Homo sapiens: one gene and its partners. Changing the gene in region 1 together with any one later gene gives a genetic interaction. Each region holds a gene or a part of one and is shown on either strand. Other genes may lie near its edges.

What was found. Genes that interact genetically often act in the same process or in processes that back each other up.
Region 2: changes in PSMD4 (region 1) and NDUFB1 together harm fitness more than expected from each alone (negative genetic interaction), as found in Homo sapiens cells (one large-scale study listed by BioGRID).
Region 3: changes in PSMD4 (region 1) and EEF1G together harm fitness less than expected from each alone (positive genetic interaction), as found in Homo sapiens cells (one large-scale study listed by BioGRID).
Region 4: changes in PSMD4 (region 1) and RTF1 together harm fitness less than expected from each alone (positive genetic interaction), as found in Homo sapiens cells (one large-scale study listed by BioGRID).

The regions. Positions count from the first base shown.
Region 1 is NC_000001.11:151,263,770-151,268,798, reverse strand, and holds the end of PSMD4 (26S proteasome non-ATPase regulatory subunit 4), read right to left. Parts: intron 4,886-5,029; coding exon 4,771-4,885; intron 3,968-4,770; coding exon 3,881-3,967; intron 3,634-3,880; coding exon 3,565-3,633; intron 3,406-3,564; coding exon 3,190-3,405; intron 2,796-3,189; coding exon 2,687-2,795; coding exon of another isoform or gene 2,678-2,686; intron 2,492-2,677; coding exon 2,360-2,491; intron 2,280-2,359; coding exon 2,212-2,279; intron 1,627-2,211; coding exon 1,456-1,626; 3' UTR 1,320-1,455; downstream 1-1,319. UniProt on the Homo sapiens protein: Component of the 26S proteasome, a multiprotein complex involved in the ATP-dependent degradation of ubiquitinated proteins.
Region 2 is NC_000014.9:92,118,907-92,122,965, forward strand, and holds the start of NDUFB1 (NADH dehydrogenase [ubiquinone] 1 beta subcomplex subunit 1), read right to left. Parts: upstream 2,801-4,059; 5' UTR 2,736-2,800; intron 2,494-2,735; exon of another isoform or gene 2,290-2,493; intron 1-2,289. UniProt on the Homo sapiens protein: Accessory subunit of the mitochondrial membrane respiratory chain NADH dehydrogenase (Complex I) that is believed not to be involved in catalysis. Complex I functions in the transfer of electrons from NADH to the respiratory chain.
Region 3 is NC_000011.10:62,561,494-62,563,891, forward strand, and holds part of EEF1G (elongation factor 1-gamma), read right to left. Parts: intron 1-2,398. UniProt on the Homo sapiens protein: Probably plays a role in anchoring the complex to other cellular components.
Region 4 is NC_000015.10:41,476,095-41,479,594, reverse strand, and holds part of RTF1 (RNA polymerase-associated protein RTF1 homolog), read right to left. Parts: intron 3,150-3,500; coding exon 3,072-3,149; intron 2,431-3,071; coding exon 2,309-2,430; intron 2,138-2,308; coding exon 2,080-2,137; intron 1,048-2,079; coding exon 970-1,047; intron 493-969; coding exon 397-492; intron 169-396; exon of another isoform or gene 104-168; intron 1-103. UniProt on the Homo sapiens protein: Component of the PAF1 complex (PAF1C) which has multiple functions during transcription by RNA polymerase II and is implicated in regulation of development and maintenance of embryonic stem cell pluripotency.

The sequences.
Region 1 (5,029 bases):
GGCAGAGGTTGCAGTGAGCCAAGACAGTGCCACTGCACTCCAGCCTGTGCGACAGACTCCATCTCAAAAAAAAAAAAAAAAAATTAGCTGGGCGTGGTAGTGTGTGCCTTAGTCCCAGCTATGCAGGAGGCTGAGGCAGGAGGATCCTTTAGGCTAGGAGGTTGAGGCTACAGTGAGCTATGATCACACCACTGCACCCCAGCCTGGGTGACAGAGCACAGACTTTGTTTAAAATAAATAAAAATATATATATATATTTTTTAATTTTTTATTTTTTGAGAGTCTCCCTCTGTCGCCCAGGCTGGAATGCAGTGGCATGATCTCAGCTCACTGCAACCTCCGCCTCCTGGGTTCAAGCAATTCTCCTGCCTCAGCCTCCTGAGTAGCTGGAATTACAGGCGTGTGCCACCACACCCGGCTAATTTTTTTTCTATTTTTAGTAGAGACGGGGTTTCACCATATTGGTCAGGCTGGTCTCAAACTCCTGACCTTGTGATCTGCCCACCTCGGCCTCCCAAAGTGCTGGGATTACAGGTGTGAGCCACCGCACCTGGCTGAAAAAAAAAAAAACTTTAAAAAAAATTATAAAGGGAATAGATGTTCCTTGTAAAATAATATTTAAACCGTATAATATAAAGTCTCAAGGTAAGGTTACTTGTAGAGTGGATTTTATGCATGTACACTGAGAGGAAAACGCCAGCAGGGTGTTTAGGACAGCAGAGACTCAGGAGACAGCATAACTGATGCAGGGAGGTGCTGGCAGGAGGGAGGGAGCCAGAACTTCCTGCCTCACGGCCTTGACTCTCTGTAAAGATGTCAGGCTTCTGTTGAGAGTGATCGGGGAGTAGAGGAAGGTATAGTAGTTGCTACAAGGAACTGACTTGCAGGGCTGAGCAGAGTCACTGAAGGCAGCTGACCAATGGGAAACTACTGTTTGGTGGTGATTCAACTCCTGGCGAGACAGGTCTGAGACAAGTTTGGATTTTGATCCTGGTTCTGCCTCTTCATTAGCTAAATATCCTTGGCCAAATAACCTAAACTTGCTGAACCTCAGAAGTCCACATGAAAAAACTGAAAAGGTTGAGTATCATTCCATGCTTGGGGTTCAGCTGTGTGAGTGCAGAGTAAAAGTTATTGGCAAGAAGGTGGTTTAAATAAGGTCTTCGTTCATTAGAAATGGAAACCTGGCTCCTGGGCCTGTAATCCCAGCACGTTAGGAGGCCCAGACAGGTGGAAACAGAGACATAGAGAACTCAACAAGGAAGGTTCTCCTTCAGGCCAGGGACTCCTCCCCTCTCTCACACTCAAAACCATCAATATTTGAAGCAAAAAAGGAAAAAAAGTTGCCAAGCTTTATTTAGGCTGTAATGGTTACAGATAACACACATCTAACCCTATATTCCGTGCTTCCCATGCAGTCCCCTAAGCAGACTCAGCTACCCTTTCCCTCCAGTCTCACTTCTTGTCTTCCTCCTTCTTGTCCTTCTTGCCGTCCTTGGTGGCCTGGGAGGCCAGGGAGCCCATAGCATTTCGAATGGCTTCATTGTTGGGATCCACACCTGGGAGGTTCTCTAGGACACTCTGAAGGAACTCGGGGTCCTGCATCACGTCGTAATCATCCTCCTCCTGCAAACAGGCAGTGTGAGCTCAAGGGAGGGTATGGAGCGGCAGGAAGTAAGCAGGTGTTAAGGACAGGAGCATGCCGCTGCCAGAGGCCCCCTGCCTTCTGACTGTGTGGGGATCTGGGCACCTCTGGTCGACGTAAGGAAAGGACAAGTCAGCAAAATCCTTTATACAGCATGAATGCAGTTATTACTAACCAAATAGAGGGGCCTGCTGAGAACTCTGTTAATTGAGCTCTGAGGAGAAAAACAGATGCCATCACATTGAGGTTTCCTGCTCTCAAGACACCCAGTTCTCCTTTTTCTTTTTCCCAGACCCGCTTTTTTCCCTCCTGGGAAGACATCCTAGAGAACTGCCCAGGCTGCTCCCACCAGCAAGAAAGGAAAATTACAGAACAAGAGGACATTTCTCCAACTCTGACCATTAGCATTGCTACCTTAGCAAGGTTTACATGTAAGAAATGCAAATCCATGTGTTTCCCTCTGCTCCTCAAAGGACTTAGCTATGGTAGAAATACTCCCAGCCCCAGAGGGATGAGGATCTAAATTCAAGGACTTTAAACCTGATGGGGGCAGGGTTGGGTCTCACCTTGGCTGGCTCAGATGTGTCCATAGCTGAGCTGGCATCAATGTCTGCTGATTCCGCCTGGCCAAACTCTGAGGAAGAGAGGTCAGTCTGTTCAGTTACACTTCCTCACCCCAACCTCTGCCTAGGCACCACCCAGGCTCTGGCTCACCTGCTCCCTGCAGGGACATCTGCATGGCATAAGCAATCTGCTCTTCCTCAGTCATACTGCTTAGGTCAGGAAGCCCAGTGCGGCCAAACTCTTGCTGGCTGATGGTCATCTTCAGCAGGGCATCGTCTGAGTCTGGGAAAAGGAAAAGAGGAGCAGGGTAGAATTGGTGCCATATCCACACAGGCCAGCCTCCAAGGCCATTCCTAGCCCAGCCCTCCCACATATTCCTACCCTGTCAGACCTCCACACTCTCCCTGCAGTGCCTACACCCAGCTTTCAATGTTTAGCATCCCGCAGTCCCAGGACTTCGGATTCCACCTCTTTCACCTTCAGTCCCAGTCGTAGCAATCCCGGCCTCAGCAGCAGAAGCTGCAGCTGCCCGCCGGGCCTCCTCCTCCTGCCGCTGCCGCTGCTCTTCCATAGATACACGAAGGGCCTGGTGAAGGGCAGGGCATAATCAGGGCTCCCCTGCCCTCACTCCTACAGGGAGCTGGGAAAGTCAGTTGGGGTGTGGGAAAGGAACATAAAGGGGCAGCTTCTGGTTTATCACACAGAGAAGAAGCTGGAGGGATAAGCAGTGGTACGGGATTAAAAAGTAAGGACTTGGGAGAAGCCTCGGTTTTCATCAGAAGTGAACAAGAAAGCATCTGACACTGGTGCCCCTAGAGATCAGACAGCATTATAGGGAAGAGGCGGCAAAAGGAGGTCTTGGAAAATGAGTGATTGGTAGTGTCTAGGACTATCCAGCCTGATAGAAGCTCTGTGATGTGTGTGCCAGAAGAGAACAAAGAGGGACCTTTGGACTCTACCTGGGGTCAACATTTGCTCACCAAGGCCAGCTCAGGATCAGCACTGGGATCTACTCCAAATTCAAAGTCACTGGCACCAAGACCCAGCATGGCACCACCTTCACCAGCCAAAATCGGAGAACTGATGAGAGCATCAGCCAAACTGGGCCCAGGAGGCACTGTCACCAGATGAGAACCGGTTCCATCTTTGCCATTCAACGTGTTTACAAAGGCTGTCAGCTTTTCTGTGTTCACCTCCTGGGGAGGAAAGAACACATGATGCCCTTCTTCAGGCCTTGCTCCCTGTTCTTTCCCATTTCTGCACTACTCTGCCACAGTACCCGCACTCCTCAGGGTTAAGGACCATTCTGTTTATGACCAAATTAAGTCAATGCCCTCCAATCAGTCCCTACTCACCTCTTCCCCAAAATTGATAATGTCAACATTTACTTTCTCCTTCTTGAGGCGTTTAGCCAGTTTCACCAGCTGGGAAGAAGGGGAGAAAAATCAAGAAATCTGTTCCATACTCGAGGGGGGGAAAGGACCCGCCGCATAAAAGCATACAGAAATCTATTGACCTCCCCAAGGTCCTCCAACAGAATCACTGAATTCTCCACATTCACCTTTCCCCAAAGTGATGAGCCTGATGCCTCTGCCAGGTTCTCCTGAGGGCTGGAAGACCTCAGTCCCAAACATGGGCTCCCCACATTCCCCAGCTGCCACTTGGACTCACATCCTTCTCATTGTCCTCCACTGGGCTTCCCACAAAGGCAATGATGCGCATCTTGTGATTCTTGCCTTGTCGGTGCTTCAGAGCCAGCTTGTAAAGGGAGAGGAAGTTCTCAGAGTTAACCAGAGGAATCACTCAGCTCTTTCCTCTGTCACTCGGTTCCCTTTTTCTTACAGTTTCTTTGTACCTGAAGTACACCATCTACCATCACGTTCACACAAGATTTAACACCCCCACCTCCTCCCTTTTTGCTATGACTCTCTGTGCATAAAGAAGGGAGGTTAATTCTCTTTCTCTCTTTTTTTTTTTTTGAGATGGAGTCTCGCTCTGTCGCCCAGTCTGGAGTGCAGTGGCGTGATCTCAGTTCACTGCAACCTCCACCTCCCGGGTTCCAGCGATTATCCTGCCTCAGCCTTCCTAGTACTGGCTAATTTTTATATTTTCAGTAGAGATGGGGTTTCACCACGTTGGCCAGATTGGTCTCGAACTCGTGACGTCAGGTGATCTGCCCGTGTTAGCCTCCCAAAGTGCTGGGATTACAGGTGTGAGCCACCGCGCCCGGCCTTTTTTTTTTTTTTTTTAGAGAAACAGGGTCTCCCTATGTGCCCAGGCTGGTCTTGAACTGCTAGCCTTCAGCAATCCTCCTCCCCTGGCCTCCCAAAGTGATGGGATTACAGGCATGAACTACCACGCCCAGCCTTAATTCTCAATTCTAGGGATTTTTCCCTTCACAACCCTCAACTACCCTGGGATTCATCCCCCATATCCTTTCTACTCCAAGTTAGCTTTCTCTTGCTCTGGTCCTAGCTCAGGATTCCAGGGGAGAAATGAGTATGATGGAGGCAGGACCTCAGAGCAGGGAGGAAAGGTCCAGGGAACCCAGTAGGACTCACATGGGCCACGCGGATGCCCGTGCAGAAGGTGATCTTGCCCTTGGGTTGGACAGTATGTAGCTTGGACAGGATACGGCCAGTGTCTGGGGTGAGTGTGGTCAGCACTTCACAGTCACTGGGATGTAGGAAAAGCATTTCAGTGAATTCAGGTCAGCACAAGTACCTCTAAACTGTGTCTAACTTTTATTTATTTATTTTTTAGACGGAGTCTCACTCTGTCACCCAGGCTGGAGTGCGTGGCGTGATCTCGGGTCACTGC
Region 2 (4,059 bases), on another chromosome or scaffold:
GAGGTTGCAGTGAGCTGAGATGACGCCACTACACTCCAGCCTGGGGGATACAGCGAGTCTCTGTCTCAGAAAAAAAAGAAAGAAAAAAAAAGGCAAAGGGAGAAGAAAATTTACTTTTATAGAGTGACTACTAGGTGGCTCATGCCTGTAACCACAGCACTTTGGGAGACTAAGGCGGATGGATCGCTTGAGCCTAGGAGCTTGAGACTAGCCTGGTTAACATGGCAAAACCCTGTCTCTACAAAAAATCAAAAAATTAGCTGGGTGTGGTAGTATATGCCTGTAGTCCCAGCTACTTCGGAGGCTGAGGTGGGAGGATTGCTTGAGCCCAAGAGACGGAGGTTGCAATGACCTGAGATCACACCACTGTACTCTAGCCTGGACGACAGAGCGTGATGCTGTCTCAAAAAAAAAAAAAAGACTACTAGGTTACTAGGTACCAGAGCCATCATCTATTTCTATACGTAATGTGAAATAACTATTATTTACATTTTACAGATAAGAAAACAGCTTAATCCAAATAGCTATTAAGTACAGAGCTGGAGTTCAAATTCAGCTTCACTCTACAGCTCTGGCTGCTATTATAGCCCATGCCTAAGAAACCCCTTCCTGAATTGATGTTTATGGTACTTAAAAGCTTTTAAATGCTGAGTTTCCAGAAGGTAGATGAGGAGGAATAGAACTATAGGTTTTTCCTTATCCGAAATGCTTGGGACCCGAAGTGTTTTCGATTTTTTGATTTTGAAATATTTGCATGCACATAATGAGCTATCTTGGGGATAGGACCGAATTAAAACATAAAATTCATTTGTGTTTTATATATACCTTATACACATAGCCTGAAGGTAATCTTATATGAAACTTTTTTTTTTTTTTAAATAGTCTCGCTCTGTCACCTAGGATGGAGTGCAGTGGAGTTATAATAGTCCACTGCAGTCTTGAACTCCTGAGCTCAAGTGATCTTCCCACCTCAATCTTCTGAGAAGCTGGAGCTACGGGTGCTAATTTAAAAAAATTCTTTAAACATTTTTTTTTGTAGAGACAAGATCTTGCTATGTTGCCCAGGCTGGTCTCAAACTTGTGGCCCCAAGTTTCACATATGGGGGCATTTTGGATTTCCAACATTCTGATCAGGGATACTGAACCTGTAATAGACATCATGTGGAAAATAAATTGCACAATTCAATAAAAACATAGTTGGATTGCCAATTTTCTGTAAAAATTCGTGCATACAGATGAATTCAAAATACACCTGTGTGCGTTTGGACTAAACTAATAAATCATGTACAATGACTAAGAAGACATATGACAACATCCTAGAAAGACAATACATTATTGCCAACAAAAGTGCTTAGCACTAAGCTGTGCTAGGACTATGTAGACTGAATTTCTGCCTCTCCTCTTACACTGGCATGCTTATACAATTCATACTTTTTTCTTTCCTTTTTTTTTTTTTATTTTGAGACGAAGTTTCGCTCTTGTTGCCTAGGCCGGAGTGCAATGGCGCAATCTTGGCTCACAGCAACCTCTGCCTCTCGGATTCAAGGGATTCTCCTACCTCAGCCTCCCAAGTAGCTGGGATTACAGGTATGCGCCACCATGCCCAGCTAATTTTGTATTTTTGGTAGAGACGAGGTTTCTCCATGTTGGTCAGGCTGGTCTTGAATTCCCAACCTCAGGTGGTCCGCCCGCCTAGGCCTCCCAAAGTGCTGGGATTACAGGCGTGAGCCACCGCGCCCGGCCGTTCAAGTGATTTTCTTGCCTCAGCCTTCCGAGTAGCTGGGACTATAGGCAGGTGCCACCACGCCCGGCTAATTTTTGTATTTTTAAGTAGAGATGGGGTTTCACTGTTGGCCGGGCTGGTCTCAAACTCCTGACCTCTTGATCCGGCCACCTCGGCCTTCCAAAGTGTTGGGATTACAGGCGTGAGCCACTAAGCCTGGCCATACTTTTGTCTTTTAAAAGGCAAGGTGGGCCAGGTGCAGTGGCTCACGCCTGTAATCCCAGCACTTTGGGATGCTGAGGCGGGTGGATCACGAGATCAGGAGTTCGAGACCAGCCTGGCCAACATAGTGAAACCCTCGTCTCTACTAAATATACAAAAAATTAGCCGGGTGTGGTGGCGGGCGCCTGTAATCCCAGCTACTTGGGCTGCTGAGACGGGAGAATCGCTTGAACCCGGGAGGCGGAGGTTGGAGTGAGCCGAGATTGCACCATTGCACTCCAGCCTGGGTGACAAGAGTGAATCTCTGTCTCAAAAATAAAAAAGCAAAGTAAAAGGGTAAGCACATCATTTAGGCGCAACGGTGTCGGCTCAAGAGGATTTGCGATTTGGAAGAGAGCGAGGTTAGCGAGAAGACAGAAGGCTGGAACTTGGACGAATGTAAGCTGCTCGCGGAGGGGAGGCAGCGTCTTCCCTGCTTCAGGCCAGGCGTGGGATCCGGGCCGGTCTTCTCTCCAGTCCGGTTAGCGGGCGGTCACTGGGTCACATCTCTACGGACGTTTTCCTGTTATGACAGCCTCAGAAAACCCTTTCCAAAAGCTCCGGCCCGGAAATCCCATCCTCCACCCGAAGAAAACCCCATTTTCCTTTCCCGTCACCTTCGTTCGGAAGCCCCGGGGAAGCCCAGACCACCCCTCCACACATGCACAGCACCGAGGGCTTGCCTAGAACCCTCCCCGCCACCGTCGCCGTGATCCTCGTCGCGGCGGCCCCCCGGGCTCCCCAAACCCACCTGCAGCCTCAGCGCCTACAGCGACCCCGAGACCAAGGGCAACAGGGAACTCAACCCGCGCCAGTGGAAGCTGCGACCTCGGGACCTGCCATTCGCCGCGCCCGCACGGAGCAGAGGGGTGACGCCAGCAAATCATACTACTTTTTCCTCCTCAGGGTTGACTCCTCTCATTTTTTTTTTTTTTAGCTTCCAAACATTACCAATAATTTCTGAATAAAATTTCGCTCCAGACAGACGAGGCGTGCAGGCGTGACCGCCGTCGCCTTCCGACAGCACCGTGCCCACCCCCCGGAGATGGTCTCGCCCTGGTTCCTCCTCGTCTCCGCCGCTAGTCTCCAGCTCCAAAATGGCGGCTGCCACTGTGGGGCTTCTGCCGGCCGGTAGTCCCTGGCGCTGCTGACCCAGCATCGGCTTTTCTACGTCTTGAACCTGGATTCGCCTAGGGGTTGGGAAGGGCTGTGGACGGCGTTGGGGGAGGCCTGACGAGGCAAGTGAGGGCGGGAGAAAGGAGCGAGCCTCGGGCTGGGGAAGGCGGCGTCATTGGCCCTCCGGGAGCACGGGGCCCCGACTCCGACCCGGTCTCCCCCGAGGACTCGCCCCCGCCGCTTCGGCTGCGACTGTCCCGGTCGTTCCCGGCAGAAGTGGTCAGCGAGGGAAAGAGAAGTGACTTCTCCATGGGTTTCAAGCTCCCAGCTGTTTTGCGGCAGCCCGTACGGTTCCCTCCCGGGATCTTCTTCCCTCCTTTCTGCTTCCCTCTGCTTCCCCTTTCATCTCTTGGCGCTGGAAGAGTTAAACCGACGCCAGCTTTAGCTCCTTGGCTTCGTGGCTACGGCGTTCTTAGCCTCCCCTGCTCGGGCTCTTCCCGTCGTTTTGGGTTGAGAGACCACGAGGTTGCTAAGCTCTGGACACCGCTTAGGCGTCCTTTTAGTTCTTCGACTCCAGAGACCTTTCGGTTGTTTGTACCACACTGTACTAAAAGGGTCTTGGGCCTTCGCGCCCTCCCGCCATCGCCCTCCAGCGCTTCCACTATCACTGCGAAGTTCTAATTCTTTTTTGACTTCGTACTATTTTACGTGCTCTTTAGAAAAGAAGAGGTCAGATTGAACCCCGGCAAGTCTGGCTTCCTGTGACCAGGCGAACCTGAGCTATCATTTATACCCATCCCCTAATTTTTAATTTTACAACCCCTTTAACCCCTTTCTTTTTTCTTTCTTTTTTTTTTTTTTTAATAAAGACGGGGTTTCACTATGTTGCCCAGGCCGGTGTCGAACTCCTGGGCTCAAGAGATCCTCCCATTTTGGCCTGTGCTGGGATTCCAGGCGTG
Region 3 (2,398 bases), on another chromosome or scaffold:
GAAAACCTATCTCTACTAAAAAAAAAAAAAAAAAAAATTGGTGGCACACGCCTGTAGTCCCAGCTACTCGGGAGGCAGGGACAGGAGACTTGCTCGAACCCAGGAGACAGAGGCTGCAGTGAGCCGAAATTGCACTCCAGCCTGGCAACAGAGCAAGACTCCGTCTCAAAAAAAAAACAAAAAAAAAACAAAAAAAAAAAAAACAACCAAAAAACACATATATGTGTGTGTGCATACATGTGTTAAATGCCTAACCTTGTTTTTACTCTAACTCACTACTTTGAATCTTCCCTGTTTGTCTCTTTAACCACCTAGCCTTGCTTCTCATGTAAATAAGACTCTCTCTCTAGCTGGGAAAGCCGGACAAACTCCAATTGACCCTTTAATTTACAAGACACTAAGGGCTCCTCACCCAACCCCCTTCCACAAGGAGTTGACCTGTGTTAAGCAGATCCTCAGCATTTCAAAGGAGCCCAATTAACTGATAAGGTACTGGCACAAACAATGTATGAAGTTCCCAGGATTTTTCTCAAAGTGATAACAACATAAAGCCTTGAGTTGTGTCCCGCATAGCCCCATATCTAATTATAATGAAGGATTTAGAGCCCTGCACCTGGTACGGTTGCTTTTTGTAACCATTTGTCTTTTAAATTGTTTATCTCTCTGTAACCATTTTGCTTCTTTTGATTCTTGCATGTTTTTACCTCTGTAAAATTATTGCATTTGAGTTCCCCTCCCCTTCCTAAACCAAGGTATAAAAGTTAGTCAAGCCCCTTCCTCAGGGCCGAGAGATTTTTGAGCGTTAGCCGTCTCTTGGTTGCCGGCTAATAAAGGACTCTTAATTCGTCTCAAAGTGTGGCGTTTTCTCTAACTCGCTCAGGTACAACATGTGTGTGTATATATGTGTGTGTGTGCATATACATACACATATATATATATATGCTGACTGAAGAAAATCACCTATAATGCCAACAAGAGGATAATCTTTTTTTTGTTTTGTTTTTTTGAGATGGAGTCTCGCCCTGTCACCCAGGCTGGAATGCAGTGGTGCGATCTCGGCTCACTGCAACCTCTACCTACCGGGTTCAAGCGATTCTCCTGCCTCAGCCTCCCAAGTAGTGGGATTACAGGCACGTGCCACTACGCCCAGCTAATTTTTGTATTTCTAGTAGAGACGAGGTTTCACTATGTTGGTCAGGCTGGTCTTGAACTCTTGACCTCGTGATCCGCCCGCCTCGGCCTCCCAAAGTGCTGGGATTACAGGCATGAGCCACCGTGCCCAGCCCAGGATAATCTTTTATGTATTTTCCTACAGCCTTTGATTTTTCAAAGATGTAGCCATGACATATGCAGTTTTGTGCTTATACTTTGTTGTTACTGGACATCCTATCCATGCTGTTAAGAATTCTTTCAGCCTGGGAAATATAGCGAGACACTGTCTCTACAAAAAAATTTAAAAATTAGCTGGGAGCTGGGCACCATGGCTCACGCCTGTAATCCCAGCTACTCAGAAGGCTGAGGCAAGAGAATTGCTTGAGTCCGGGAGGCAGAGGTTGCAGTGAGCCGAGATCACACCACTGCACTCCAGCCTGGGAGAAGAGCAAGACCCTGTCAAAAAAACAAAACAATCCTTTTTTTTTTATTTTTCCTTGAGACGGAGTCTAGCTCTGTTGCCCAGGCTGCAGTGCAGTGGTGCAATCTCGGCTCACTGCAAGCTCCGCCTCCTGGGTTCACGCCATTCTCCTGCCTCAGCCTCCTGAGTAGCTGGGACTACAGGCGCCTGCTACCGCCCCCGGCTAATTTTTTGTACTTTTTGTATTTTTAGTAGAGACGGTATTTTTACCGTGTTAGCCAGGATGGTTTCAATCTCCTGACCTCGTGATCCACCCGCCTCAGCCTCCCAAAGTGCTGGGATCACAGGCGTGAGCCACCGCGCCCAGCCTAAAACAAAACAATTTTTTGCACTAGCAGTCCCAGCTACTCAAGAGGCTGAGGTAGAAGGACCACCTGAGATCAGGAGTTGGACACCGGACTAAGCAACATAGCAAGACCCTACCTCAAAAACAGAATTCTTTGCAAACATTTTAATGGCCAAACAATCTTCTAATGCAGGATTGTGCCATAAATCTACTAAACATTGAATATTAAACTGAATGTTTAGTTGGTTCTATTGTTCATAGCATAAATATTGCCATGAGTATTCCAATTTCACTCAATCCTTATAACCCATGAGTTATCAACTGTTACCCTGACCCTCCCCTCTCTTTACAGATGAGACCAAGTAGAATGACCTGTCCAAGATTACACTGTAGCAAAGCAGAGGATCTGTCCTTTAACCCTAGGTCCCAGGTTCCTTTCCAAATGCATAAGAGACCTCATCTGAGGAGCCTTAAAACCT
Region 4 (3,500 bases), on another chromosome or scaffold:
GCCACTGCGCCCAGCAAGAAAACTGCTTTTAAATGTGCCATTTTCAACAAGCTTTCACTTTTACAATGTCTGATCTTTGTATGTTATCTCTCCTCCTGTGAAGCTGGCAGGGTATACAGTAGTACCCTCATTTTACACAGCAGAAAAGGGGATGCTGAGGGCTGGAAGCCAGCTGCTGAAGGACATAGTCAAGGCCCTAGGCAAGTAGTGGTGTCAGGTTTGGAATTAAGGTTGTCTGTTGATTATATCTGTAAATAACTGGGATGGAGAAGGGACTCCAAGAGGGACTCCCTGTTCCTCAAGGTGGAAAAATCAAGCCCAAACTAGACAAGGTACTTGTTCGGTATCTCAGCCAGCAGCCTCACTCAGCAGGCAACAGGGTGGTACCACACTTGCCTTGCTCATTTCCTTTGGAGCATCTGGTAACACTCCAGAACCGTATTTTGCATTCAGCTGGGCCAAGATGGCAGCTTGAACAGCTGGGTCTCTGGACTGAGAGAGAAAATAAGTTGTTTTAGAGATTGCTTGACACTCACAGAGTCCTACTGCCAGATTCTTTCCCACCTACCAAACTAACATCACAAGCACCACAGCCGACCCATCAGCAGCTAGTGGGGTTTTCCTCAAAGCAGCAAAAAAAAAAAAAAAAAAGGCAATTACAAGCTTGAAAGCCAAGCCCAGCCCAGCCAGGCCCTAGCTAAGGGACACATTACTAATGTCTGCTGCACTGTAAACCCACCCTGATACAGGAGGATCAGTCACTAGGTTTTTATAAATCCATGCCACGTTTTCACTACCGATATGTCCTATAGCAAGATAAAAAAGGAAGTATCCAGACCCAAGAGCTTCAGACAAGCAAATCCCAGCTAAGAAAACATTATTTTTAACTTCATTATTAATTTCCTAATGGAATTCATTTTGTGTCCTAGAATCTAGGTCCTGACTAAAATGTCCTCTTTCAGCACTCACATTAGAAACGATGGTAGGCTTGCACTGCCGCCGAGTAAAGGGATCCATCTGTTGGTTTTTCATGTTGTGACTTTCAGCCTGAAACAGAAAGCATGCACCACAGAACTGCACCTCCAGCCCCTCCTCTCATTCACCATAAGCTCACAGGCAAATAAGTCTTTGCACGGGACTGAAAAAAAAAAAAGCTATTATCCTTTTCCTTTTTTTTTTTTTTTAATTTTTTTTGAGATGGAGTCTCGCCCTGTCGCCTAGGCTGAAGTGCAGTGACGCAATCTCAGCTCATTGCATCTGCTGCCTCTCAGGTTCAAGTGATTCTCCTGCCTCAGCCTCTCCAGCAGCTGGGACTATAGGTGCAAGCCACCAAACCCAGCTAATTTTTGTATTTTTAGTAGAGACAGGGTTTCGCCATGTTGGCCAGGCTGCTCTCAAACTCCTGACCTCAGGTGATCCACCCACCTCAGCCTCCCAAAGTGCTGGGATTACAGGCGTGAGCCACCATGCCCGGCTAATTTTTTTTATTTTTTAAATGGATTCTCGCTCTCTTGCCCAGGCTAAAGTGCAGTGGCACGACAGCTCACTGCAATCTCCACATCCCAGGTTCAAGTGATTCTCGTGCCTCAGCCTCCCAAGTAGCTGGGATTACAGGCGTGCACCACCATGTCCGGCTCATTTTTGTATTTTTAGGAGAGACAGGGTTTTGTCATGCTGGCCAGGCTGGTTTCAAACTCCTGACCCCAGGTGATCCACCCGCCTCGGCCTCCCAAAGTGCTGGGATTACAGGCGTGAGACACCGCGCCCGGCATATTATCCTTTTCCCTTCAAGAATACCAGAGTAGATATGGGGGAAACAACCAAGAAACAGAAATTGAGAAAAAACAAATACCTGTGGAGTAGAATCTAAGGGTGGGAAGAGGTAGGACAGGGCAGAAGACTGCTGCTTTTCATTATGAATAAATTATATCGATGTACGTGGACATACAGAGAGAGTGTGTATACGTTAAGTGCCTACGTTATTTCAATAATTAAAAAATAAACTTAGGCAAGATGTAGAAAAGATGTCATGGTTTATTAATTAACTTTGTTTTAGTGATTCAGATAAAGTTTTCTTACCACAAGGGCCTTCTCAGACTCTACAATGTTCCACTCCCGGTTCCGCTGGTTGATGTAACTGTGGGGTAAGAGGGATGAGTCAGTGGCTGTGAAACAAGGGAGGGAGGGAACCACTGAGCCCTGAACTCAGATATCTATGGGGTCAGTGCAGCACAGAGTGTACAGGCCACAGGCTTGCCTGATAATTTTGGCCAAGGTCTGCGGGCCAAAAATAGGCTCCATAACACACCTGATAGCGGATATGTTCTTGGTCCGCTGGCGGTCCAGGGCCTCTGCCCGTTCCTCCAGCTCATTCAGTTGATCTTGGATTTGTTTGGCCTTGTCCTGATCCCCCAGGTCCTCAGCCATGGCCTACACATAGAGAGATGTGTGAGTTCGTTCTTGGCTACATACAACTGACTCCATATCAAGTATCCCCTTACTTCCAGCACAGGCAAAGATATCTCATGTGGTGAGCAAAGGACAGGAGATGTGGAAGAATACTGTAGAAGTACTTTACAAATACAAGATATAATTTATATTATAGTAGTGCACAGTACAGTGGGGAACACCTTCCCATACAGCTACCTGGCTGTGGGTCCCTGGTGGCAGTAGAACCCCAGGCCTCACAGGGTGGCTAAACCACCATAACAAGGCCCACCCCAACCCAGTGTGAAGAATGGAAAATCACCAGCCACAGGTGGCCTTGACAGTGTCATCTGTCTGTTCAGACTCAGTGTTAAATACCACCCCAGGGTCTATTTTATTACAAAGGAAACTGAAGTGACTAGAAAGTAAGAAGACTGGCACACACGCAGAAGATGAGTTTGAATTTAGGGAATGGAAAATGGCCAAGGAACGTTGCCCAGGTGCCAAGAACACACTGTGTTGCTTATAATCGAGCCCAGAATTTTCTCCCAATCCTACCACCACTAACTTGGCAGAGGATGAACAAGTTTGATTTCCACATCTCCTTACAGGATGAGGAAAGAGGCTCGAGTACAACTCCTTACCTTTTCCTTCAGTAGCTGAGTCTTCTTCATAGCGTAGTTGGGTGGAGCTTTTCTGAACCTTTCTTTCTCTTTTACAATCTGTACCAGAGAGGAGATACCAGCAGTGAGGTATTCCTAAGCTATTTTTGTAGACAGGCTAAGTGAGCCCATTTTGGATGCAAACAGCTAGTTACAAAGGGGCTGCTCTTCCTACAGCAGTGTCATGCCCCAGAGAGAGAGAGAGCGGGTTCATTCCAAGGGATACTATGCTGCTTCCTGGGTCACGGAGATTCTTCTGGGACAGGCTGAAGGAACATGCACCAAGAAACAGCAGCCCAAGGGCCTGGTAGTGTAAGGCTAGCCACTGTCCAAGAGAACAGAGATCAAATAATTTTACCAAGATGTTTTAGAAAAGGAAAACTCTTGAAGGATCAAGCCTAGCAGAATACA